5 separate regions of the Homo sapiens genome follow, and regions 1, 2, 3 and 5 are each linked to region 4. Evidence: fine-mapped expression QTL. A gene starts in region 4. Each other region holds a variant in brackets. All regions are shown on one strand. Distances are between the middles of the regions.

Region 1 (5,172 bases), 63 kb before region 4:
TTAGTAGAGACAGGGTTTCACCATGTTGGTCAGTCTGGTCTTGAACTCCTGACCTCAGGTAATCCACCCGCCTTGGCCTCCCAAAGTGCTGGGATTACAGGCGTGAGCCACAGTGCCCAGCCCGGATGGAGGGCCTTCTGTGAGCAAGACACCGCTTTTAAGCCTCAGAGAGACTTTGTCCTTAACCTGGAAGAATAGTATATGGCAGAAAAATTGGCTATGCCTGGCCCTGCTCCCTCATGTCTCCTGGAATTACCCAGTCATCCTCCTACCTAAGTAATAATCTCCTAATTGCTGAAATCTGGCCCCAGTGACCAAGAAGTTCTAGGCATTCTTAGAGGCACCCCAATATCTGAAATATGCTACCTGCTCCTGTGCAGATGGTCAACAGCAGCCCACGCTGACCACAGGACTACAGTGGCCATCCCAACAGCAAGGCTCTTGGCTGGACCAATTCAGTAGAATGTCTGACAATAACTGTAATGAGATGATCTTATTCTTTAAGGATGAGAAGGACATCAAGGCTCTAAGTGGTGAAATGACCTGTGGTAAAACCAGGAGTCTGTCTTGACACTCAAGTCTTGGGCAAGTCACCATGCCTGGGCCTCAGTTTCCCTGTTGGAAAGCCAGAGCAGGCCAAGGGTGGTGGCTTATGCCTGTAATCCCAGCCCTTTGGGAGGCTAAGGCGGGAGGATCACTTGAGCCCAGGAGTTTGAGACCAGCCTAGGCAACAAAGCAAGACCCCGTCTCTACTAAAAACTGAAAAAGAAAAAAATTATCCAGGTGTAGTGGTGTGCATCTGTAGTCCCAGCTATTTGGGAGGCTGAGGTGGGAGGATCGCTTGAGCCCAGGAATTCAGGTTACACTCCAGCCTGGGCAATAGAGCAAGACCCTATCTCAAAAAAAATAAAAAATACCAGGGCAACGGCCGCCCCTACTGGGAAGTGAGGAGCCCCTCTGCCCGGCCAGCCGCCCCGTCCGGGAGGGAGGTGGGGGGGGTCAGCCCCCCTGCCCGGCCAGCCGCCCCGTCCGGGAGGTGAGGGGCGCCTCTGCCCGGCCGCCCCTACTGGGAAGTGAGGAGCCCCTCTGCCCGGCCACCACCCCGTCTGGGAGGTGTGCCCAACAGCTCATTGAGAACGGGCCAGGATGACAATGGCGGCTTTGTGGAATAGAAAGGCGGGAAAGGTGGGGAAAAGATTGAGAAATCGGATGGTTGCTGTGTCTGTGTAGAAAGTAGAAGACATGGGAGACTTTTCATTTTGTTCTGCACTAAGAAAAATTCCTCTGCCTTGGGATCCTGTTGATCTGTGACCTTACCCCCAACCCTGTGCTCTCTGAAACATGTGCTGTGTCCACTCAGGGTTAAATGGATTAAGGGCGGTGCAAGATGTGCTTTGTTAAACAGATGCTTGAAGGCAGCATGCTCGTTAAGAGTCATCACCAATCCCTAATCTCAAGTAATCAGGGACACAAACACTGCGGAAGGCCGCAGGGTCCTCTGCCTAGGAAAACCAGAGACCTTTGTTCACTTGTTTATCTGCTGACCTTCCCTCCACTATTGTCCCATGACCCTGCCAAATCCCCCTCTGTGAGAAACACCCAAGAATTATCAATAAAAAAATAAATTTAAAAAAAAAAAAAAAAATACCAGGGCAAGTGAAGCCCTCTGTGCTTACCTCTGCAGGTTGGCGTGAGAAATGAGGTGACGTCATGCTGGGAAAAGTGTGTGTTATATGCAAACGAGGGGGTGGATCCTAGTTATAAAAATAATGATGCCTGTGTTCAAAGACATGGTCGTGACATTTTTTGTTTGAAGTTGAGGAACTTCCCTGGAGTGTCTAAAGAGGAAAAATCAGAACAGTTCTTCCTAGGAGGGGGTAGGTGGTGTATGAAAAACAGGATAATTACCTAGTTGATTTGTATGGAATTTTATTTTTATTTTTATTTATTTATTTGTATATATTTTTTGGGATGGAGTCTTGCTCTGTTGCCCAGGTTGGAGTGCAGTGGCGTGATCTCGGCTCACTGCAACCTCCGCCTCCTGGCTTCAAGCAATTCTCCTGCCTCAGCCTCCTGAGTAGCTGGGATTACAGGCACTTGCCACCATGCCTGGCTGATTTTTCTAGTTTTAATAGAGACGGGGTTTCACCATGTTGGCCAGGCTGGTCTTGAACTCATGACCTCAAGTGATCCACCTGCCTCAGCCTCCCAAAGTGCTGGGATTACAGGCGTGAGCCACCGTGCCCAGCTTATACGGTATTTTAACATTTACAAACACTTTTAAATCCATGGCCCCCTGAATTTTTTCATGGTGAAGACTACAGCTTTGGGGTCTGATAAACCTGTGATGGGTTCCTAGTTCCAACACTTACTGTGTGAGCAAGCAACACTTACTAATTGTCTGAGCCTCAGTTATTAATCTGTAACATGGAGATAATTCTTTTGTTTGTCTTTTGGGTTTTTTTTTTCTTGGAATTGGAGTCTTGTTATGTTGACCAAGCTGGTCTTGAATTCCTGGGCTCAAGCAATCCTCCTGCTTTAGCCTCCCAAAGTAGCTGAGACCACACCAGCACAATGGGGATAATTCTCTCTAAAGAGTAGTTCGGAGTATTAAGTGTGACGATGCATGTTAAATACTTTATTTTATTTATTTATTTATTTATTTATTTATTTATTTATTTATTTATTTTCTGAGACGGAGTCTCGCTCTGTCGCCCAGGCTGGAGTGCAATGGCAAAATCTTGGCTCACCACAAGCTCTGCCTCCTGGGTTCACGCCATTCTTCTGCTTCAGCCTCCC[A/G]AGTTAGCTGGGACTACAGGCACCCGCCACCATGCCCGGCTATTTTTTTGTATTTTTAGTAGAGATGGGGTTTCACCATGTTAGCAGGATGGTCTTGATCTCCTGACCTCGTGATCCACTCGCCTCGGCCTCCCAAAGTGCTGGGATTACAGGCGTGAGCCACCACGCCTGGCCCGCATGTTAAATACTTTAAATGGCCTGGTACAAGGTAGGCAAGTACTCAATAAATCTTAGCCAGTGTTGTTCATGTTGTTTGCAACTCCTTCCTCACCATCATGCTGATGAGGCCCATGGTATTAGATCCTCCATTCCCGAGATGAGAAAAATGTGACTCTGAGGCAGCTGTGGTCTCTCCTGGGGTGGCTTGGCTGGTGGGTGACAGGCCAGTATTTTAAACCAACCCAGGCTCCAGCCTGGGGCCCCTGACCCCACAGCTGTTGAATATTCAGTAGGTCCATGCTGTTCTATATTCAAAGACCTTTGTTTGTGGCTAATAATAGCTCTTTGTTTCTGCTTGCAGGAGGGTAGCCTCCATGCAGGGCTTAGACCCTTTTCCTTTTCAGGGACCACACCCACCCTACCCTCATATTGGCTCTAGGGAGCCACTGCCACTAATGGAAGTGTGTCATATCCTCAGGGTGTGCCAGGCAGGGAGGTAGAAGGGTGGGTGAGGCTCGTAGACTTGCACATGGTGATTGGCAGGGCCCCAGCCACGTGTCCATGTGTCATCTACAGTGGGACAGCTGCTCCATTGTGTCTGAACTTGCCTATCCGAGAAAGGCAAAGATTACAGTGTCAGAGCCAGGCCTTGACCGGTCCCCACCTGGCCCTGCCCCTGCCCATCCTCATCCGGTTGGTGCCTTTATGGAGCTCTGTGTGTGCCGAGCACTGCCTGGGACCTTCTACCCATGTGATCCCCTTTAATGTTCATAAACAGGCTGTGTAGCAAGTCCTGACCCCAGCCTTGCCCTTGCAGCCTCCAGGGTGACCTTTTTTTTTTTTTTTGGACGGAGTTTCGCTCTTGTTGCCCAGGCTGGAGTGCAATGGCACGATCTCGGCTCACTGCAACCTCCGCCTCCTGGGTTCAAGCGATCCTAAATAGCTGGGATTACAGGCACGCGCTAGCGTGCCCAGCTAATTTTGTATTTTTAGTAGAGACAGCGTTTCTCCATGTTGGTCAGGCTGGTCTTGGACTCCCAACCTCAGGTGATCCCCTTGCCTTGGCCTCCCAAAGTGCTGGAATTACAGGCGTGAGCCACCGTGCCCGGCCCAGGGTGACCTTTTAAAATGCAGTCAAAGCACAACATCCCAAGGTCCTGCCACAGTCTACAAAGCCTGACTTGGTTCGACCCCAGCCACCCCTCTGACTTTAACGTTTCCATTCTCCCTGTCCTAAATACCTATTGTTGCTCAACACACTGCTCCAAATGTGCTGGCTTAAGCCATGTTGTTATTTCTGCTGATTCTGTGCATCAGGGACGATGCAGGGCACGGGGGAGCCCGCTTGCACTGCTGCCTGGGATGTCTGCTGGCGCTGGAGCACCCAAGATGGCCTCATCATGGCGATGCCTGGTGAGGATGCCCCAGGGGTTTTTTTTGTTTTCTTTTGTTTTGCTTTTTTGAGACAAAGTCTTGCTCTGTCGCTTAGGCTGGAGTGTAGTGGTCCAATTTCGGCTCACTGCAACCTCTGCCTCCCAGGTTCAAGCTATTCTTCTACCTCAGCCTCCTGAGTAGCTGGGATTATAGGCGCGTGCCACCACGTGCAGCTAGTTTTTTTTTTTTTGTATTTTTAGTAGAGATGGGATTTCACCATGTTGGCCAGGCTGGTCTTGAACTCCCCACCTCAGGTGATCCGCCTGCCTCGGCCTCCCAAAATGCTGGGATTACAGGTGTGAGCCACCGTGCCTGGCTGTCCCAGGGGTTTGAAGACACGAGCCTGGGGCCTTGGTTCTTGCAGTCACCCAGGTTGTTGGTTCTTTTTGTAGGCTTAGGGGCTCTTCCTCTCCACCTCATTGTCCTAGGCAGTTGGACTTCCTACCAGGTAACCCTGGCCCGAGAACACAGAAGTGGCTACTGCAAGGCCCTCTTATGACTTTGGGCTGGAAATGGCAGAGCATTACTTCCATTGAGTCCTTTGGTTAAAGCAAGCACAGGTCCTGTGCAGATTCAAGGAGGGGACCACGCAGAGGGCCAGGCCAGTGTGGCTCATTGGAGGCCACCAACGAAACCGCCCACCAGGTTCTTGCTCATTAACTCTTCCTCCAACCTGTCACACACTCTTCTGCCGCTGGGCCTTTCCACTTATGGGTTCCCTCTGCCTGGGGTGCTTTTCCCCAAATATCCAGGGGTCTCACCCCTTCCCTTCATTCAGCC
Region 2 (5,172 bases), 24 kb before region 4:
TCCCCAGTGGGGTTGCAGATGGTTTTCCATGTTTGATTTGTTCAAAGCTGAATCCAAACAAGGCCCACATGCTGTTTGGTAGTCATGTGTCCTAAATCTCTTTTATTATTTTCAGAGTTTCCCCTCCCCTTTTGTTAGGCCTTTGATTTGTGGAAGAAACTGGATCATTTTCCTGTAGAATAGCTCCTATTCTGGATTTCGTCCATTGTTTCTTCCTGGTGTGTTTAATTTGTTTTTCTATGCCCATAGTTGCTATAAATGACTGTGGAGATTCAGAGTTTTTGGTAGATTCTGTGTCAGTTTTTAGTTAAGGAAACCTCATCAGGGGTGCCGTGTCCTTCCTGTTGTATCCCAGCAGAGGCACAGAAGGTGGTGTTAGTAATGAGAACAGTGAGCAGAGGGCGTGGGTTCGCTCTTTCCCCCATTCTTTTCTTTCCATTTTATTTATTTATTTTTTTTGAGACTGGGTCCAGGCTGGAGTGCAGTGGCATGATCGTAGGTCACTGCAGCCTTGACCACCTGGGCCCAAGTGACCCTCCTGCCTCAGTCTCTCGAGTAGCTGGGACTACAGGTGCACACCACCATGCCAAGCCAATTTTTAAATTTTTTGTAGAGACAGGATCTCCTCACGTTGCCCAGGCTGTTCTCAAACTCCTGGGCTCAAGCAATTCTCCCACCTCAGCCTCCCAAAGTGTTGGGATTACAGGCTTATGAGCCACCATGCCCAGTCTCCCTTATTCTTTAAATTATTCCTTCTTTTTTTTTTTTTTCTTTTTTTTGAGACGGAGTCTCACTTTGTCGCCCAGGCTGGAATGCAGTGGCTCGATCTTGGCTCACTGCAAGCTCCGCCTCCCGGGTTCACGCCATTCTTCTGCCTCAGCCTCCCGAGTAGTTGGGACTACAGATGCCCGGCACCACGCCCGGCTAATTTTTTGTATTTTTTAGTAGAGATGGGCTTTCACCATGTTAGCCAAATGTTTCTATTTAATTTATTTTTTTATTTTTATTTTTATTTTTCGAGACGGAGTCTCGCTCTGTCACCCAGGCTAGAGTGCAGTGGCGCGATCTCGGCTCACTGCAAGCTCCGCCTCCCGGGTTCACGCCATTCTCCTGCCTCAGCCTCCCAAGTAGCCGGGACTACAGGCCCCCGCCACCATGCCCGGCTAATTTTTTGTACTTTTAGTAGAGATGGGGTTTTACTGTGTTAGCCAGGATGGTCTCGATCTCCTGACCTCGTGATCCGCCCACCTCGGCCTCCCAAAGTGCTGGGATTACAGGCGTGAGCCACCGTGCCCGGCTACTTAATTTATTTTTGTATTACAAACCAAACAATGGAAAATTGTCTTAAAAAAAAAAACAAGAACAAAAACTCACCGTCTCCGCCCACCTCCCTTGAATCCAGTGTGTTTTTGTCTGCACAGTTCCTTATGTTTGTGCCAACACTCACGTTTTTTCTTCCAAAAATAGGATCATATTTATGTGATATCTCTGCAGCATACTTTTTTTCACTTTTCAGCATGCCAGACATCCCGCGACCCTGATACAGAAAAGATTCCATTGGTTCTTTTCAGGACTGTGTCATGTCTTGTAGTGTCACTATGTCATCACAGAATTAGGAGGTCCCAGCTTTCTGATCTTTTAAAAAAATTGTAGTAACATATATGTAACATAGAAGTTGCCATTTTAACCATTGTCAGAGTACAATTTGGTGGCATTTAAGTACAGCCCCAATGTTATGCAGTCATCACCAGCATCCATCTCCAGAACCTTTTCAACAGCCCCAACAGAAATTCTGTACCCATTTAGGCATTTGCTTATTATTTATTTATTTATTTATTTCTGAGATGGAGTTTCGCTCTTGTTGTCTAGGCTGGAGTGCAATGGCGTGATCTTATCTCACCGCAACCTTCGCCTCCCAGGTTCAAGAGATTCTCCCACCTCAGCCTCCTGAGTAGCTGAGATTGCAGGGATGTGTGCCACCATGCCCAGCTAATTTTGTATTTGTAGTGGAGACGGGGTTTCTCCATGTTGGTCAGGCTGGTTTCGAACTTCTGACCTCAGATGATCTGCCTGCCTCTACCTCCCAAAGTGCTGGGATTACAGGCGTGAGCCACCGCGCCCGGCCTGCTTTTGTTTTCTTTGAGATGGAGTCTTGCTCTGTCGCCCAGGCTGGAGTGTAGTGGTGTGATCTCGGCTCACTGCAACCTCTGTGCCCCAGATTCAAGCGATTCTCCTGCCACAGCCTCTGAACTAGCTGGGACTACAGGCGTGTGCCACCACACCCAGCTAATTTTTGTATTTTTGGTAGAGACAGTTTCACC[A/G]TGTTGACTAGGCCAGTCTTGAATTCCTGACCTCAGGTGATCCCTCTGCCTCGGCCTCCCAAAATGCTGGGATTACAGGCATGAGCCACCACGCCCGACATTGGTTTTTTTGTTTGTTTGTTTGTTTTTTCTCACTCTGTCCCTGAGGCTAGAGTACAGTGGCTGAATCTCCGCTCACTGCAGCCTTGATCTCCTGGGCTCAAACAATCCTCTGGGCTCAAGCAATCCTCTTGACTCAGCCTCCTGTGTAGCTGGGTCACCACCACACCTTGCTCATTTTTATTTTTATTTTTTTGTAGAGACGGCCAGGGGGTGGTGGTCTTACTTTACTGCCCAGGTTGTTCTCAAACTTAAGGGCTCACGTGATCCTCTGGTCTCTACCTCCCAAAGTGCTGGGATTACAGGCGTGAGCCACTATGCCTGGCTGGGGTTTTAAGAAAGGCAGCTTTGGGCTGGGCACCGTGGCTCACACCTATAATCCCAGCACTTTGGGAGCCCAAGACAGGCGGATTGCTTGGGGCCAGGAGTTCGAGACCACCTGGGCAATATGGTGAAACCTCAGATCTACTAAAAATAGAAAAAAAATTAGCTGGGTATGGTGGCAGACACCTGTAATCCCCGCTACTTGGGAGGCTGAGGCAGGAGAACTGAGATCACACCACTGCTCTCCAGCCTGGGCAACAGAGCAAACACTCCATCTCAAAAAAAAAAAAAAAAAAAAAAAAAGGCAGCTTCTACATTCCCTAGCCCCAGTTCCAAGGGACCAGCCACCCTGAGGGCCTCATCTTCCCATCCTCTCTCCTTCTCTCCCCGAAGGTGTGTCTTTATGCGGCTGGCCACCATATGTGTCCTGGTGTTCACGCTGGGCTCCAAGATCACATCCTGTGATGATGACACATGTGACCTTTGCGGCTACAACCAGAAACTCTACCCGGTGAGTTGCGGGGCGGGGGCGTTCGGCTGGGTGGGTCCTTCTGGAATACAGTGTCATGGTCAAGAGAACAGCGGTTGAAGCCATGGGTTTGAACTGCATTTGCTTCGCTTTCTTGTTCTAGTGATGAGACAGAGTCTGGCCCCATGGAGTCTAACCCCAGGCACTTCTGAGGGCTTGGAAACCAAGGTCTGTGCTGAGGCTCAGAGTTTGCATCAGCTGATGCCCTCACTGGAGCCACAGGATCTGGAGTTGGAAAGGGAATTAGAAGGTGTCTTGGGAGCCTGGTTTTCTCTGCCTCAGCTAGGGTCTTTCAGTTTCCCTCACTCTCTTTGATTTCAGTGCTGGGAGACCCAAGTTGGGCAGGAAATGTACAAGCTGATGATCTTCGACTTCATCATCATCTTGGCTGTGACACTCTTCGTGGATTTTCCTAGAAAGTAAGTGCGAGGGGTGCCCATATTATCCCCCCCACCACACACATGCACACACACACATACACACACACACAACTGGAGGGTCCCATTGCAGCTGCATTCCAGAAGCTGCTGGATGACTCTACAGCCCTGGAAATCTGACAACTGGTAACTTTCTTTTTTTTTTTTTTTTTTTTTTTGAGGCAGGGTCTTGCTCTGTCACCCAGGCTGGAGTGCAGTGGCGCGATCTTGGCTCACTGCAACCTCCGCCTCCCAGGTTCAAGCGATTCTCCTGCCTCAGCCTCCCGAGTAGCTGGGACTACAGGTGTGTGCCACCATGCCTGGCTAATTTTTTGTATTTTTAGTAGAGATGGGGTTTCACCATGTTAGCCAGGATGGTCTGGATATCCTGACCTCGTGATCCACCTGCCTCGGGCTTCCAAAGTGCTGGGATTATAGGCATGAGCCACCGCGCCCGGCCAAGTTTTTAATTTTTTGTAGAGAGGGGCTCTTGCTATGTTGCCCAGGCTGGTCTCGAACTGGCCTCAAACGATCCTCCTGCCTCAGCCTTCCAAAGTGCTGGGATTACAGGTTTGAACCATTGTGTCTGTTCACAACTGGAAACTTTCAAGCAGCTCTAGGCTGTTGACCTCAGCATTCATTAGTTGCCCATCTAAAGGCAGCATGAAGAGCAGAAATGGGGTCGCTTTCCATGAGGTTTTGCTGGGGATGACCTTCTGCCATCAGCACAAAAGGTGCAGACCTTCCAGGCTGCAGTGGACACCTGTCTCCCGATCTGGGTTCAAACTCCCTCCCTGCTCCTTGCTAGTCATGTGACCTTGGGCAAGTTATTTAAGCTCTGTGCCTATTTTCTCATCTGTAAAATGGGGATAGTAGTAGTACCCACCCAGTAACTTTGTGGTGAGGAGTAACTGGGATAATTAATGCAGATAAAAGCACTGAGAACACTCCACAGTATAGAACTCAACAAAACATCAGCTATCACCAGCATGATTATCATAAACTGTGTTGTCATTTCTGTTATCATTCTCTGTTCACTTAACCACTGTTTACCCACATATGCAGATAATCTAGGCAGAGGCCAGAGGTCCAGTGAGCCCTTAAAAATAAATATGGAAGCCTGGGCACAGTGGCTCACACCCATAATCCTAGCACTGGGGAGGCCAAGGTAGGAGGATCACTTGAGGCCAGGAGGTTGAGACCAGCCTGGGCAAAATAGCGAGACCCTGTCCCTACAAAACACAAAAATTAGCCAATTAGCCAAGCATGCACATGTAGTCTCAGCCACTTGGGAGGCTGAGGCAGGAGGATCACTTGAGCCTTGGAGGTCGAGGGTACAGTGAGCTATGATTGCACCACTACACTCCATACTGAGTAACAGAGTGAGACCTTGTCTCAAAAAAAAAAAAAAAAGTCAAGGATTGTATGAATTTCAGTGCTGAACTATAGATCTGAGACTTGGAACCTGATCTTAATGATTCCA
Region 3 (5,000 bases), 210 kb before region 4:
AGATGGGGTTTTGCCATGTTGGCCAGGCTGGTCTCGAACTCCTGACCTCAAGCGATCCACCCACCTCAGCCTCCCAAAGTGCTGGGATTACAGGTGTGAGCCACCGTGCCAGGCCAACTCACCTATTTTTAACAGGACTCTAAGGAAATGCCTTATTTTCTCAAAAGTATATTCTTCTTAGAAAAATATAACTCACTTTCATCTTAAAATGCAGAAGTTTTTATTTACAACAACAATTGGTAAGCCCCATTCAGTATTTTATCAAATATATATGATCAATTTTCTCAAAATCAATGATTTGGAGTAGCAATCTTGCCCCAAGCACCATGTTTTCCTTGCCTGAATCCCCGCCGGCCGACACACAGCCTGTCCAAGAATACCATATATTCTCTCTTTCTCTTCCTCAGTTATAGTGTCTGGAAGTAGATTCTGAACTTCAGATTTTTCTCTAGGCAGCAGACGAACACCTTCTCCCTGACTATAAAAATAAACAAGTCATCAGTATTTCAGCTACCCAAACTTTACCATATCAGCAGACATTTAAATATCTATTTATGCAATGCATAAATAAACTACACATTTAAACATACCTGGCATTGTCAACCACCTTTCTGCCCCACCTATAAGCCCAGCTGGCCAACGCTGCCCAAGATTTGGCTACTTCAGGTGCCTGTACTGAAGACAGGTGATACAACTGTCCCAAAATGAAGTCAGGTTCTCCAACTCCAATATGCACTGCCAAAATGGACAAAAAAATAATTATAATAAAAGAACTCAACAATGTTACATTCATAAATTCCTAACGACATTTCCATTAGCATTTTAGGTTTTTATCTGCAAGCAATCAAAAGTTCCAAAATATTACTGTACATAACTTGAGAAGGCACAAATATGAATTATGTTCTCTAAAAGGTTGGTATGTTGAAATGAATTCATTAGCTTCCCAAGTAAGATTATATTATCTCCTGTGGAAGACATCAATATCTTTCATGACACTGAACATTGTAAACAGTCAGGTGTCAGCTGTGCTGTAGAATGTCTTGCATTATGAATCGGACTGGCTATTTCCTCATGATCAGATTCACTTTAATCATTCTGGCAAAAATAATAAATAGGTGATGAGTATACTGTTTCATTCATACAGACTCATGAGGCAAACATCTTTATTCCCTTGTTAAAGGTGAAGACACTGCCTGCTATAGTGCATCTGACAAGATGAAGATTTATAATGACCACAAGACATATCCTTTATGAATATCAAGACTCTATCAAAATTATTAACACCAATGTAAGTAATTAAACTCTTAGGCTTCAGAACAACAAAATGAAGGTATATTCTCATGTTTCAGCAAAGAAAACCATCTCCCAAATTTTCTCTCAAATTTTAAAAACAGGGGAATTATGCCTTCCACAACAGGCACTCAAACATGGACAGAATCAACTACCCTATTTGTAAGGTATCTTTGTGTTACTAGCACTAGCACCAGAATGGGAAACTTGAATCTTTATATAGTTTCTGTGTTCCACCAATCAATAGGAACACAGGTAACTATTTTAAATCTTTGTTGCTCCTTCTATTGTGAGGTGAAATTTTTTGATATGAGGGGCAGGATCTTATTGCCAGCAAAAACATCTAAGTCCATAAAAGCAAATACCTGGGGGCAGAGTTCAGTGACTCCCAAAATGGCATTCGATCCTAAATATGTTTTAGTTATTTCCCAACAATAAAATAAACTCAACTTCCACAGATATACTTTTTATGGAAAATTATAGCCAGCATAACATTATAAACTTTAAAACAGAAAAAAATATAGCTTCTAAAATTAATATTCTAAAGCTAATAAAGCAACTCTACCTGTAGATTCACTCTCGATCCGAGGATACTCTTCTTCCATCGTATTAACAGATGGCAGTTCTATTAGAGTGAGTATGTTTTTAGACAAAGTAGAAAGACCTGTGAAGTTCTGTTGGTGCTGAGCTCTGTAAACCTGTTTCAGCTGTCCTGAAATCTCTTTCCATTCTGCCTGGATCCATTTAGCCAGTGTCAGAATTGATTTAGCAACTGCATATTCAGCTTTCACAGACTTGCAGAAAGATATGGCACAAGAACTCAACATTTCCATTGCATGTGTTGACTGGCCTACAGAAAACCACAAAGTCAGAACTTAGAACCTTTAAAAGCAAATGATGGAGGGAGGCACTTGGATTAGGAAACAAATATCAACATGGTGATGACACCACCATGTTGATGGTTTCAAACTCCTATGCTCAAGCATAGGAGGCTCCTACTGTCTTAGCCTCCCAAAGTGCTGAGATTGCAGGCATGAGCCAC[T/C]ATGCCTAGCCAAAATACTAAACTTTTTTTTTTTTTTTTTTTTTTGAGGCAGGGTTTCACTCTGTCACCTAGGCTGGAGTGCAGTAGCACAATCAGGGCTCACTGTAGCCTCAACTTCCCAGGCTCAAGCAATTCTCCTGCCTCAGCCCCTCAAGCAGCCGGAACTACAGGCATGTTCCACCACACCCCCCTAATTTCTTTGAATTTCAGTATAGCTGAGATTTCACTCTGTTGCCCAGGCTGGTGTCAAACTCCTAAGCTCAAACAATCCTCCCATCTTGGCCTCCCAAAGTGCTCAGATTGTAAGCATAAGCACCTGGCCCAAAATAATAAAGTTAAAAAAACATGTAAATTCAGTGACCAATGATCTCCGGAAATACTTCTTACTGTAATACATTGCAACAAAATTCTTTTGAAAGCACAGAATTATAAAGGTAAGTCAGTAATAAGCAACTTATTATTCAGGATGCAAATGTTCTGCAACAGCTGGAAATGATCAACTTTGCTATTACTACCTTATACCATACATACACAGTAACATTCATATACATGATTTTTATTATACTCATGTATTAACCATAATTAATTTTACTAACCTGCTGTATAAAGCAATTTGGTTTTTTCAATATCAAGTTCGGGCCCCCATTTTTCATCCACTTGACCTTGGGTTGATAGTTTTTTAAAATGTTGGACTAAATCCTGTGCAGTGGTGGTCTTTCCCAGCTGAACTTCACTGCACTGTGCCAGCAGTCTTGTTGCAAGGGACACATTCCCTCGTTTTCTAGCAAATTTTGCTGCTGTTAGACCTAATTCCATGAGATGGCTTCTAATTGGGACTGTTTGTTCTGAAGAGAGGAAAACGTTTTATTAGTTCCTAATTTGTCTAAACCAGACTGCATGGAAACATGGCCAAAAAATTATTCCCCAACTATCCCTCTTCTGCACCACCTCCTGAAACAAAGATAACTCATCCTCAAATCCCTAGCAGCTAGCACAGTGCTTGAGATACAATGAACAGGTTTTGCTAAATTAAATGTATACAATGAAGTAAAGTCAAGTCATTCATTTCAAGAAATTTCTTTTTAGTTTCTGAATCTTTGGCAAAAAGCCTGGGCCAACGGGTAGGGAAAGCAAGGAAGCAGGGAAGGCTAAACCATCCCCCCGCACTTCTTCTGTAAGTACTCTCTGCCCTTCCACCATTCTCCTGGTTTTCTTCCTATCTTGCTGAAGAATCCTCAGTCTCTTTCTCTTCCATCACTCATCCATTAAACACCAGTGCTCCTTGGACTCAGTCCTAGGCTCTCTACTTTTCCCACTGCATACTCTCCCTGGACATCATCATCTTTTCCTGTGTCTTCAATTACCACAGAAATGCTGACAACTGCTGAATCTTCACCCAGACCTGATATCTGAATCCCACCTGCCAACTGGTCATCTACACTCTATTTATTTCAAGAGTGCTTCCTCTAATGTCAGTCATGCCAAATGGAGCTCATTTTCCACCACCCTCCAAATCTTTTACTCCCTTTTTCCATTTTCCCCTTCTCAAGGAAGGGCACAGGATGAGCCGGCTGCCTGTGAAAGTACTTGGCCACCATCACAGACTTTACTTTCAACCCTCATGGCCCATTTGCTTTTTTCTTTCCCTACTGCCACCCTAGTTACCCTCTTTAGCAGAGACTTCAGCATAACTTAGGTCCCTTTGACCCCATTCTTATACTCTTCTAATCCATTTTCCAACTTGCAATTGAAGTGACATTACACAAGGGTAAATCTGAACATTTCACTTCCCTGCTTAAAAGCCTCTGATGACTTCTCACTGACATTCTGACAAATCCCAAACTCCTGAATTCAGCTTGTTACTGATGCCTTCCAGCATTCAATTCCAATCTCAATCTCATCCAGCGCTCCACCTCTTCCTACTCTCTCTTAGGTGAACTGAGTCAACTAAGAATCATTATTTTCTCTGGCCTGCACACGTTTTTTCTAACCAAGTCAGCCTGCCTTCTTCCTCATCTTTATCTTAACTCTCAGCTTAAATGTTACTTCCCCACAAGTCTTTTTCTGATTCCTAGGATTAAATCAGGTGCCCTCGTTATTTGCTGTTCCTTCTTATTTTTTGAGACCGGGTGTCACTCTGTCACCCAGGCTGGAGTGCAGTGGCATGATCATAGCTCGCTGCAGCCTTCATTTCCCAGGCTCATGCTATCCGCCCACCTCAGCCTCCTAAGCAGCTGGGACTATAGGCACATGCCACCACACCCAGGTGATTTTTTTTTTTTTTTTTTTTTTTTTGAAATAGAGTCTCACTCTGTTGCCCAGGCTGGAGTGCAGTGGCGTGATCTTGGCTCAATGCAAGATCCGCCTCCCTGGTTCATGCCATTCTCCTGCCTCAGCCTCCCAAGTAGCTGGGACTACAGGCACCCGCCCCCACGCCCAGCTAATTTTTTTGTATTTTTAGTAGAGATGGGGTTTCACCGTGTTATCCAGGATGGTCTCAATCTCCTGACCTCGTGATCCACCCCCCGTCAGCATCTCAAAGTGCTGGGACTACAGGCGTGAGCCACCGCGCCCAGCCCACACCCGGGTGATTTTTTAAATTCTTCTAGCAGAGACAGGGTCTTGCTATGTTGGGTCACCGTGTTTGATGTCAGTTTTCCCTGCCAGA
Region 4 (5,000 bases):
TAATCCTGGCAAAATTCTTTTTAAGATAGAAAGTACAGAGGGAGGGAAAAAGAAGGAAAAAGAAGGAAAGAACTTTGGTATTCTAATTTCTTTTTCACTTAATATGTGTTTTCCTGAAGAATCTAGTGTTTTCTCCTGTTATTAAAAGCTCTTTACAAACATTTCAATGGGCTACATAACATCATACAGTTGGATTTTTTTTTTTTTTTTTGAGCCAGAGTCTAGGTCTATCACCCACTCTGGAGTGCAGTGGTGTGATCATGGCTCAGTGCAGCCTCAACCTCCTGGGCTCAAGTGATCCTTTTAGCCTCACAAGTAGGTGGGATCAGAGGCACACACCACCATGCCTGACTAATTTTTAAAATTTTTTGTAGAGATGGAATCTCACTGTGTTGCCCAGGCTGGTCTTGAACTCCTGGGCTCAAGTGATCCTCTCGCCTCAGTCTCCCAAAGTGTTGGGATTACAGGCGTGAGCCACTGCACTCGGACATGATGTTTTGATATTCAATTGTTGCTTAACATTTTGTTTCCAAATTTTCCCAGTAATAAATAATGGGCACATCTATAAATCTTTGTCAACATTTTTTCTCCTTAGAAACAGAGACCTAGGCCAGGCGTGGCGGCTCACGCCTATAATCCCAGCACTTTGGGAGGACAAGGTGGGAGGATCACTTGAGGTCAGGAATTTGAGACCAGCCTGGCCAACACAGCGAAACCCAGTCTCAGCTGGGCGTGGTGGTGTGTGTACCTGTAATCCCATCTACTTGGGAGGCTGAGGCAGGAGAATCGCTTGAACCCGGGAGGCAGAGGTTCCAGTGAGCCAAGGTCTCCCCACTGCAATCCAGCCTGTGCGACAGAGTGAAACTCCATTTAAAAAGAACAAAAACAAAAAACAAAACAAAAAGGAAACAGAGACCTAGAAGTGGTATTACAGCAAAGGTTTTGAACATTTTAAGGCTTTTGAGCGCCAGATTCAGACACTCAGTAGTTTTACATGAGAGTGCTACAACATCCTCACTAAGTAGTATTTGGGTTCATCATAATTTTAAATTATTTTGGTGTGTCAATTTGAACACTAGAGTGATATAAAAACTAAAAACTTGAATTCAATAATTTTACAATTGTATTCCATCTTAAAATATTTTATGGTAAACTTGGATAAAGTATATAAATAATCCAAGGGTGTAAAGTAGAAAGTGAAAGCTCCCTTCTCCCAGTTCCAGCCCCCTGATGTTGCCAATATTAAACGTTGTATATCCTTGCAGACACGCATCTTTGATTTTTGCCCTCATGTACATTACTCATTTAAAAATTATTTCGTTGAGTAGATTCCTAAAAGTAAGACTGCTGTATTATATGATCTTTTTAAAGTATGTTGCTAAATTTCCCCTCCCTTCTCAAAAAATTCCAATTTGCACAAATATACATGCATACATGCACACAGTACATTAAGGTGGATACCAAGGATAAAACATGTTCTCTGTTTCTGAAAATAGAGAAAAGACCGGGAAGAAGTTTAAAGTTGGCTTTCAGCCCACCAATAGAGATAACACTATATAACACCATTAACCATGTGGTGCATGTAATTTAGATATACATATAATTTTATTTATTTATTTATTTTTCAGACAGGGCCCAGGCTAGAGTGCAGTGGCAGAATCACGGCTGACTGCAGCCTCGAGCTACCGGGCTCAAGCTATCCCCCCACCTCAGCCTCCCGAGTAGCTGGGACTACAGGTGTGCTCCACCAGACCCGGCTAATTTTTAAAATTATTTGTAGAGGCGGGGTCTCGCTATGTTGCCCAGGCTTACTATTTTAAAGTAGATGTAGGATACAAATAAAAAAAAAAATCTCCTTCCACGTAGGTAAAGCAGGAAATACCGTGCCTTGTTAATAAGTAATTCCCTCATGATCCTTTTCCCCAGGAACTTGGGTGAGAAATCATAACCTTGTCCTGATCTTTCTAAACAGCAATTTAGCATTTTCATCTCCCTGGCAACCCAAGGCGCCTTGGCCTTGGTCTTCCGAGTGATTGACAGTGACCCCACCCAATAAAATCTTTTTATTTGTCGTATCTAACCAATCTAACCCCTAGCGCAGAGCTAGGGGGCGTTCCCACCGGTGCGCGGGCGAGCTGAGCCTTCCTTACGTCTGCTGTGCGTCATCAGTCCGAGCCAAGGGCACTATTGGCCAGTTCCGTTCAACGAAGTGGTTGCTTTTTTTAGTTCCGGCAATGAGTTGCGCCGGGGCGGCGGCGGCTCCCCGCCTTTGGCGGCTGCGCCCGGGGGCCCGGCGGTCCCTCTCAGGTAAAAGGAGGCGCGCAGTCACAGTCCTGCGCCGGTCTAGCGAGCTAGGGAATTTTCGCTTGAGGTTTGGGTCGAAGAGGTCACGGGGGAGAGGTTCGTAACGTCACAGGCCTGCGACGGAGCGCGACTGCGTGACTTCGGCCTCCGGGGCGCTGGCGGGCGGGGCGGGGTCTGTAGTTAGCGGCGAGAGTGACAGGAGGACAGGGGTTGTTTCGGCAGTGACGCCTGGGGAGTGACGCAATTGCACCCCTGTGCAGTGATGTCACGGCAGGTGCGGCCAGCGTTCCGAGTCGAGGACAGTTGGCGACACTGAAAATTCAGCGTCTCCGGGAGTCTCTCTCTTTGTAGTCTTTGCCCAGGGCCTTGCCAGGCAAAGGGTAGCCCGACGACCAGCAGCCTCCGCTACTTCTGGGCGCTCGCTAGAAATACAGATTCTCGGGCCCCACCCCGACCTACTTGGTCGGTATCTGTGATCTGTGAACAGGACCTTTAGGTGATTTGCATGCACTGTAAACTGTGAAAGCCATCAGTGTAGTGGAAGGAGCATCGAATTTAGAGTAGAGAGACATGGTTTTGGACCCTGGTTCCTGCTTTCCTTGTTTCATCTGTGCTGCCTTAGAAAATTGTCATGAGCCCGGGCGCGGTGGCTCCGGCCTATAATCTCAGCACTTTGGGAGGCCGAGGCTGGAGGATCCCCTGAGGTCAGGAGTTTGAGACCAGCCTGGCCAACATGGTGAAACCCCGCCTCTACTAAAAATACAAAAATTTGCCAGGCGTGATGGCAGGTGCCTGTAATCCCAGCTACTCAGGAGGCTGAGACAGGAGAATCGCTTGAACCCGGGAGGCAGAGATTGCTTTGAGGCGAGATTGCACCACTGCACTGCAACCTGGGCGTCAGAGCGAGACTTTGTCTCCCCCGCGCAAAAAAAAAAAAAAAAAAGAAATTTCATGAAGTCGTTTTCTCAACGTTAAATTACCGTGTACCACTTTCGGGATTTTTGCCTAATGGCAGTACTGCTTGAACTTTTGATTACTAGATGTGTTTTTTTGTATAGCTATGTCCCATTTAAAAATTAAATTAATTTCCTTGAAACAAAATCCTTATGGTGAATGGGAAGCCAGTGCCACTTGCCACAAATGGGTGAGTAATCATTAAAAAAAAACAAACAAATTAAAAAGTTATGAAATTGTATTAAATACTGTCTTTCTGTTACAAAGGGGAAATTAGCAAGTGTTGGGAAAGTGTTAAGGCTATACCAGCTGTAAATGGAGTTATCTTCCTTAATGAAAGAGATTGCAAGAGATTTTGAAAGAGTACCCCTTACTACATGGGGTTATTTGCTGCATATCCATAAGCCACTTAATATTTTGTAGGTACCACACTGGCATGTTTCACACTTTGGGAAAATATGGACATAAAGTGATGCATTTGAGAGCTAGCACCGAGCCTCAATTTTACTTTAAAGTATATGGTAATGCAGGCAAAACTCCGAGGGTTGTTGAATGTGAATTTTAATGCTGCTCTGTTCAGCCAGTGAGCATAACAGAATAAGACTCATTTCTGTTTATAAAGTTACTTTGCTTCTTATATCTTATTTTATCCTCATAACTCAGTAAGAAAAGTTTATTATTGTATGTTTTCCCTTAAAAAGGAAAGAGCCTGATTATTGCCTTTTTTTTTTTTTTTTTTTGAGGCAGAGTCTTGCTTTGTCGCCCAGGCTGGAGTGCAGTGGCGCGATCTCAGCTCACTGCAACCTCCGCCTCCTGGGTTCAAGTGATTCTCCTGCCTCAGACTCCCGAGTAGCTGAGGCTGCATGCATGCACCACCACGCCTGGCTAATTTTTGAATTTTTGGTAGAGACGGGGTTTCGCCATGATGACCAGGCTGGTCTCGAACTCCTGACCTCAAGTGATTCTCCCTCCTTGGCTTCCCAAAGTGCTGGGATTACAGGCGTGAGTCGCCGCACCCAGCCAATTTTATATGTAAGAAATGTCGATCCTGATTTTCCCAAGGCTAGTGTTAGAGATGGGACACATGTTTTATGCTTCTTTTTTTCTTTTTTTGAGACAGAGTCTCACTCTGTCACCGAGGCTGGAGTGTAATGGTATGATCTTAGCTCACTGCAGCCTTTGCCTACTGGGTTCAAGTGATTGTTCTGCCTCAGCCTCCTGAGTAGCTGGGACTACAGGCACGTGCCACGATGCCTGGCTAATTTTTATATTTTTGGTAGAGATGGGTTTTCACCATTTTGGCCAGGCTGGTCTTGAACTCCTGGTCTCAAGCAGTCCACCTGCCTCAGCTTCCCAAAGTGCTGGGATTACAGGCATGAGCCACCACACCCGGCCTATGCAGTCTCTTTAGTCAGATATGCTCAGTGAGATGGAGAGGATCATGGCGAGGAGTAGACCAAAGCTGGGTCACTATGCTTCAGAACTTAGGTCCACGCTTCTTTGTTAAAAGTGTGACATTTACAACCCCATCTGGTAGAAGATTTCAAGTTCAGAGCCACCCCAAATTTCACCAACCCACCTCACTACCTTGTGTCCAAAGCACTCAAGCCTTTGTCATGAAAGAACCACATATGTATCTAAAATGAATTTTTTCCACATATTCGCTGGCTGTTGAAGTTAGCCTAAGTGAAAAGAAGTTTGCATAAAAGACATGGTAGTCACGGCTAAGAGCCCTAAAACAT
Region 5 (5,172 bases), 39 kb after region 4:
GGCTGGTGTGCAGTGGCATGATTAGGGCTCACTGCAGCCGCAGCCTCCCAGGGCTCAAGCAATCCTCCCACCTCAGCCACTGAGTAGCTGGGACTACAAGTGTACACCACCTCGCCTGGCTAATTTTTTTAAAATAATTTTTTGTAGAGACAGGGTCTCACTATGTTGTCCAGGCTAGCCTCAAATTCCTGGATTCAAGTGATCTTCCCGCCTCTGTCTCCCAAAGTGTTGGGATTCCAGGTGTGAACCATCGTACCTGGCCTGCCTTGTTTCTTAACAAGCGCAGCTCTAGCAAGGGATCATTCTATTTTCACAGCTGGAAAGAACTGGCTGCTGCCACTCCTGCCACAGACTAAGGACCTCTTTGTGTGGTGCTGACCGATAAGGAGAGACCACCCACATGTACAGGCAGGGACTTTCAGGGACGCTGGCTTCTGCATCAGCCGATGACAAGGCCCGGAGTGGGGGCAGTAAATATCCTGTGGGTATCCTTTGACCAACAAGAGACAGGAGATGGGAAGAATCATCAGCTCAATTGTTTGCCCTTTTTTCTCCCCAACTGTTTAGAGATTAAGAGGCTCTGTGCAGCCTCTTTGAAGGGGATGGAGGAACCAGCTGTGTTTGCTGCAAAGCTTCCTTGGGCTTGAACCACTCCCCATAAAACACTCATAGGCAAGCCATACCCTTAGGTTCTGTTTTCTGAGGATCTGGGCTGAAGAGCCTCCCCACCCCATGCTGCCACCATCCAACCAGTCTGGGTGGCAAGGAAGAGACACATTCGGACGATCTCAGACTCCAGCAGGGATTGTTAGAAGGATCACAGGGAACCCAGACAGCACTACTTACTCAAGCCAGAAAAAAGAGCTGTAAGGTCATTCAGGCCCCACGGCAGCTTTTGTGCCCCCAAATCAACTCCGATAGCCCAACATTCTTGGACTCAGCTGTTTGGTCACCTTGCTTCTTCCTACTCTCCCCTGACCCACCGAGGTTGCCATTGCCCCCTGGCCTTTGCCTACTCTATAGCTTCTGCTGATTTACGGCTTCTGCTTAATTCTGAATTCTCCTTCCTCAGGGCTTCTGTGTCCCATTCATTCAGACTCCCCAAGAGAGATCGGCATGGGTTGCTTGGTTGCCATTCAGTACTGGGTGGCATTGTTGGCAAAGTTGTGCATTGGGCTCCCTTGTTACTGGTGGTCCTGGTCCAGTCCCTTGAGAGTGTTTAGAAACATCTGCATCAACTTGACATTGCTGTGACATTTACAAGAGTGTGACTGACAGGCTCATCTTTCTAGGCACAGGTCAGTGTGGATAATCTCTAAATAAAGATAGGCCTGGTCAAATATTGAACATGCAAGGTGATTAACAATTTTTTTTTGTGTAGAGATGGGATCTTGCTCTTTTGCCCAGACTGATCTCGAATTCCTGGTCTCAAGCAATACTCCCACCTTGGCCTCCCAAAGTCCTGAGATTACAGGCGCCAGCCACCTCACCTGGCCAAAAGCAGATTTTTAATAAAATAATCGTCAAAAGTCTAAGTTGTCTGTGAATTGCACATGACATGAGCTATGTGATAGTCTTGCAGAGTAGAACCAACAGGAAATTTTAAATAACAAACCAGCAACAGGTCATTTATCACAGAGAGTCTGAGAATCACTGGGAAGGCTGCAGTAAAGGAATCTGAGCGGAACTTCCAGAAATAACTCTTAAGCCACAGAGCAGAAACTGGGCCACCAAGGAAGCCGCCGCCTCTGTCCCCACCAGGAAGCTGCCTGCAGAACCAGGGCCCCTGCTCCAGCTGCGGAGTTTCAGAACCACCCCACCTCTGCTGCCAGCCACACTAGCAAAGCGGGTGTCTCGGGTGGCTCCTGTCTTCATGCCAGGAAATGTGGGAATGTGTTTTGCTTCCCAGCTCCTGCTGTAGAAGCTCCCTAGAGGAAAGCTGAAATGAATGGCTAGTAAGTGCAACCACGGTGTCCATTCAAAAATTCTACACTTCCGTAACAATAGGACTGATGTCCTGTTCCCCCAAGCGGTCACATGCTCCTTGACCACAAGCATATGCACATTTTGTTTGTATTACCTGGAATGGTCTCCTTGAATTTCTGCTGGTCAAAATCCTATTCATTCATTCATTCATTCATTCATTCAACAAATCTCTGTAAAGTACCAGGCATGGCGTAGGCTACTCGGGATACCAAAATGAATATGGCAAAGTCCCTGACTTCAAGAGCCTCATCATCTGGTTAGGGAAATATACATGAACATAAACTACACTGCTCTTTTCCTTTCTGTCCTATTAAGCCCTTTACAATGTAAAAGAGTGAAGTACAGGGACGAAGAGTCCAGCTCTGTAGTCAGACTTGCCAGCTGTGTGACTTTTTGGAGACAGGTCTCTCCCTCTCACCCAGGCTGAAGTGCAGTGGTGCAATCATCAGGCTCACTGCAGCCTCAACCTCCCAGGCCCAAGTGATCCTCCTGCCTCAGCCTCCTGATCAGCTGGGACAATAGGCATACACCACCACACCCAGCTAATTTTTTTTTTTTTATGACAGGGTCTCACTATGTTGCTCAGGCTGGAGTGTGATTTTTATTTTTATTTATTTATTTTGAGATGGAGTCTTGCTCTGTCATCCAGGCTAAAGTGCAGTGGCACGATCTTGGCTCACTGCAACCTCCACCTCCTGGGTTCAAGTGATTCTCACGCCTCAGCCTCCTGAGTAGCTGGGATTACAGGCATGTGCCACCATGCCCAGCTAATTTTTATATCTTTAGTAGAGACAGGGTTTCACCATGTTGGCCAGGCTGTTCTCAAACTCATGACCCCAAGTGATCCACCCACCTTGGCCTCCCAAAGTGCTGGGATTACAGGCATGAGCCATTGCGCCCGGCCCCTGCAGTGTTTTCTAATAAGTTACTTAACCTCTCTCAGCCTCACTTTTCTTTTTTCTTTTCTTTGAGACGGAGTCTC[G/A]CACTGTCACCCGGGCTGGTGTGAGCGATCCCGGCCTGCTGCAACCTCTGCCTCCTGGGTTCAAGTGATTCTCCTACCTCAGCCTCCCGAGCAGCTAGGATTACAGGTGTGCACCACCACGCCCAGCTAATTTTTTGTATTTTTAGTAGAGACAGGGTTTCACTATGTTGGCCAGGCTGGTCCTCACTTTTCTCATATGTGAATGGCAATAATAACAGCACCTGCCTCATTGGGCTTGTTCTGAGCATTTCAAGAGATACTGCTGAGGAATCGCCACATCTAGGAGGCGTGTGATACAGGCATCAAATGGGCTATCGTTTCCTGTCCTTCAAAACCTGGTTACATGTTACCTGTCCATGAGCTCCCCCTGCTCCCACTGTGGGAAATGAATCACTTCTCCCTCTTTTCCTCTCATCAGTGCTCACATTCATCCTCTGTGAGACACACCTCCAAGACATCAGAAACTCTGGGAGGAGTGTCTGTATATATACTTGCTAAGCTATTGAAAACAAAAGCCATAGGAGTGACCTTTGTCAAATATTAAATGCTAAAGGAGTTTTGGTTTTTGGTTCCTTTTTTTTTTGGTTTGTTTTCAGACCGGGTCTTGCTCTGTGGCCCAGGCTGGAATGCAATGACGCAATCATGACTCACTGCAGCCTCAACCTCCTGGGCTCAAGTGAACCTCCCACCTCAGCCTCATGGGTAGGTGGTACTACAGGTGTGTGTCACACTCTGTTGCCCAGGTTGGAGTGCAGTGGCACGATTTCGGCTCATTGCAACCTCCGCCCCCCAGGTTCAAGCAATTCTCGTGCCTCAGCCTCCTGAGTAGCTGGGATTACAGGCGTGTGACACCATGCCCAGCTAATTTTTTGTATTTTTAGTAGAGACGGGGTTTCGCCATGTTGCCCAGGCTAGTCACGAATTCCTGAGCTCAGACAATCTGCCTGCCTTGGCTTCCCAAAGTGCTAGGATTACAGGCATGAGCCACTGTGCCCGGCCAACGGTGACAATTTTCTTAATCCACCTACACACTGTGTATGTACCATTTTCGTCTGTAAGCTCAAAGCCCTGTGTTTTCCTTCACATTTCCCTTGGCCTAGCACATGTTAAGAACCCACAAATATGAGCAGTAAATTAATGAATGAATACATTTGTATTTGCTCTGACACATATAGTAGATTTGCCAAGTGCAAAGTTCTGAGGCCTGTACCTTGAGCCCTTTAGAGGAAATGACCTATGGAAACAGATTACAGGCAGGAAAAATAGCAATAGTAATACGTCATTTACTCGGTGTAGCGGGGATGAATTATGGTCCTCCCAAATATATGTTTTCATCCTAACCTCTAGAACCTGTGAATGTGACCTTCTTTGAAAAAAAGCGTCTTTGTAGACATGATTTAAGAATCTTTAAATTAAGGATCCTTAAATTACAGATCTCCAGTTGAGATCAATGGGATAACCCCAGTGTCTTCTAAATCCAATGACAGGTGTCCTTATAAGAAACAGAAGGCCAGGCACGGTGGCTCACACTTGTAATCCTAGCTCTTTGGGAGGCCGAGACAGGAGGATTGCTTGAGTCCAGGAGTTCAAGAGCAGCCTGGGCAACACAGTGAGTGAGACCCCATCTCTACAAAAAATAAAAAATTAGCTGGGTGTGGTGGTGCACACCGTAGTCACAGCTATTCAAGGAGGCTAAGGCAGGAGGATCATTTGAGCCCAGGAGGTGAGGTCAAGGATGTGGAGAGCCATGATCACCCACTGTACTCCAGCCCAGCCTGGGTGACAGAATGAGAACCTGTTTCAAAAAAAGAAAAGAAAAGAAACAGAAAAGGAGAAGGCCATGCAAGATGTAGGCAGAGATGGGAGTCAGATAGCCACAAGCCAAGGGGCGCCTGGAGCCACCGGAAGCTGTAAGAGGCAAGGAGGGGTTCTCCCCTGGGGCCTCAAAAGGGAGCACAGCCCTGCAGACACCCTTTCAGATTCCTGCTTTTGAGAACTCTGAAAGAATACACTTCTGTTGCTTAAACCACCTGGTTTGTGGTATTTTGTGACAGTAGCCTCCAGGTACATTGAGCGTGTTTGTATGACCCTCGAGCTGAGATTAGTTTTTATATTTTTTTAGAGTTAGGGTCTCGTTCTGTTGTCCAGGCTGGAATGCAGTGGCATGATCATAGTTCACAGCTCACAGCAGCCTCGACATCTTA

Evidence for each region.
Region 1: its variant is fine-mapped to the expression of COQ7 in atrial appendage (GTEx, PIP above 0.99).
Region 2: its variant is fine-mapped to the expression of COQ7 in aorta (GTEx, PIP above 0.99). The same link has a PIP of 0.9 or more in esophagus muscle.
Region 3: its variant is fine-mapped to the expression of COQ7 in whole blood (TOPMed, PIP 0.96).
Region 5: its variant is fine-mapped to the expression of COQ7 in atrial appendage (GTEx, PIP 0.97).

The regions. Positions count from the first base shown.
Region 1 is chr16:19,002,415-19,007,586 of GRCh38, forward strand. The region is part of intron 1 of TMC7 (transmembrane channel like 7); the gene reads left to right. Among named protein-coding and RNA genes, the nearest start is that of TMC7, 21 kb to the left of the region's middle. The variant A/G (reference allele first, on the strand shown) is at 2,800.
Region 2 is chr16:19,041,747-19,046,918 of GRCh38, forward strand. It overlaps TMC7 (transmembrane channel like 7), which reads left to right. Exons shown (of 16, transcript NM_024847.4): 10 at 3,138-3,255; 11 at 3,595-3,692. Among named protein-coding and RNA genes, the nearest start is that of COQ7, 23 kb to the right of the region's middle. The variant A/G (reference allele first, on the strand shown) is at 2,322.
Region 3 is chr16:18,851,728-18,856,727 of GRCh38, forward strand. SMG1 (SMG1 nonsense mediated mRNA decay associated PI3K related kinase) reads right to left here. Exons shown (of 63, transcript NM_015092.5): 30 at 2,929-3,177; 31 at 1,856-2,140; 32 at 591-735; 33 at 340-478. Among named protein-coding and RNA genes, the nearest start is that of ARL6IP1, 53 kb to the left of the region's middle. The variant T/C (reference allele first, on the strand shown) is at 2,333.
Region 4 is chr16:19,065,431-19,070,430 of GRCh38, forward strand. COQ7 (coenzyme Q7, hydroxylase) reads left to right here and starts at 2,184. Exons shown (of 6, transcript NM_016138.5): 1 at 2,184-2,307. The coding sequence starts at 2,235. COQ7-DT (COQ7 divergent transcript) reads right to left here and starts at 2,261. Exons shown (of 3, transcript NR_119381.1): 1 at 2,151-2,261. RefSeq lists a silencer at 2,208-2,367 and an enhancer at 2,398-2,547.
Region 5 is chr16:19,104,351-19,109,522 of GRCh38, forward strand. No RefSeq gene overlaps it. Among named protein-coding and RNA genes, the nearest start is that of ITPRIPL2, 7.0 kb to the right of the region's middle. RefSeq lists enhancers at 1,479-2,337, 3,415-3,514, 4,663-4,752. The variant G/A (reference allele first, on the strand shown) is at 2,969.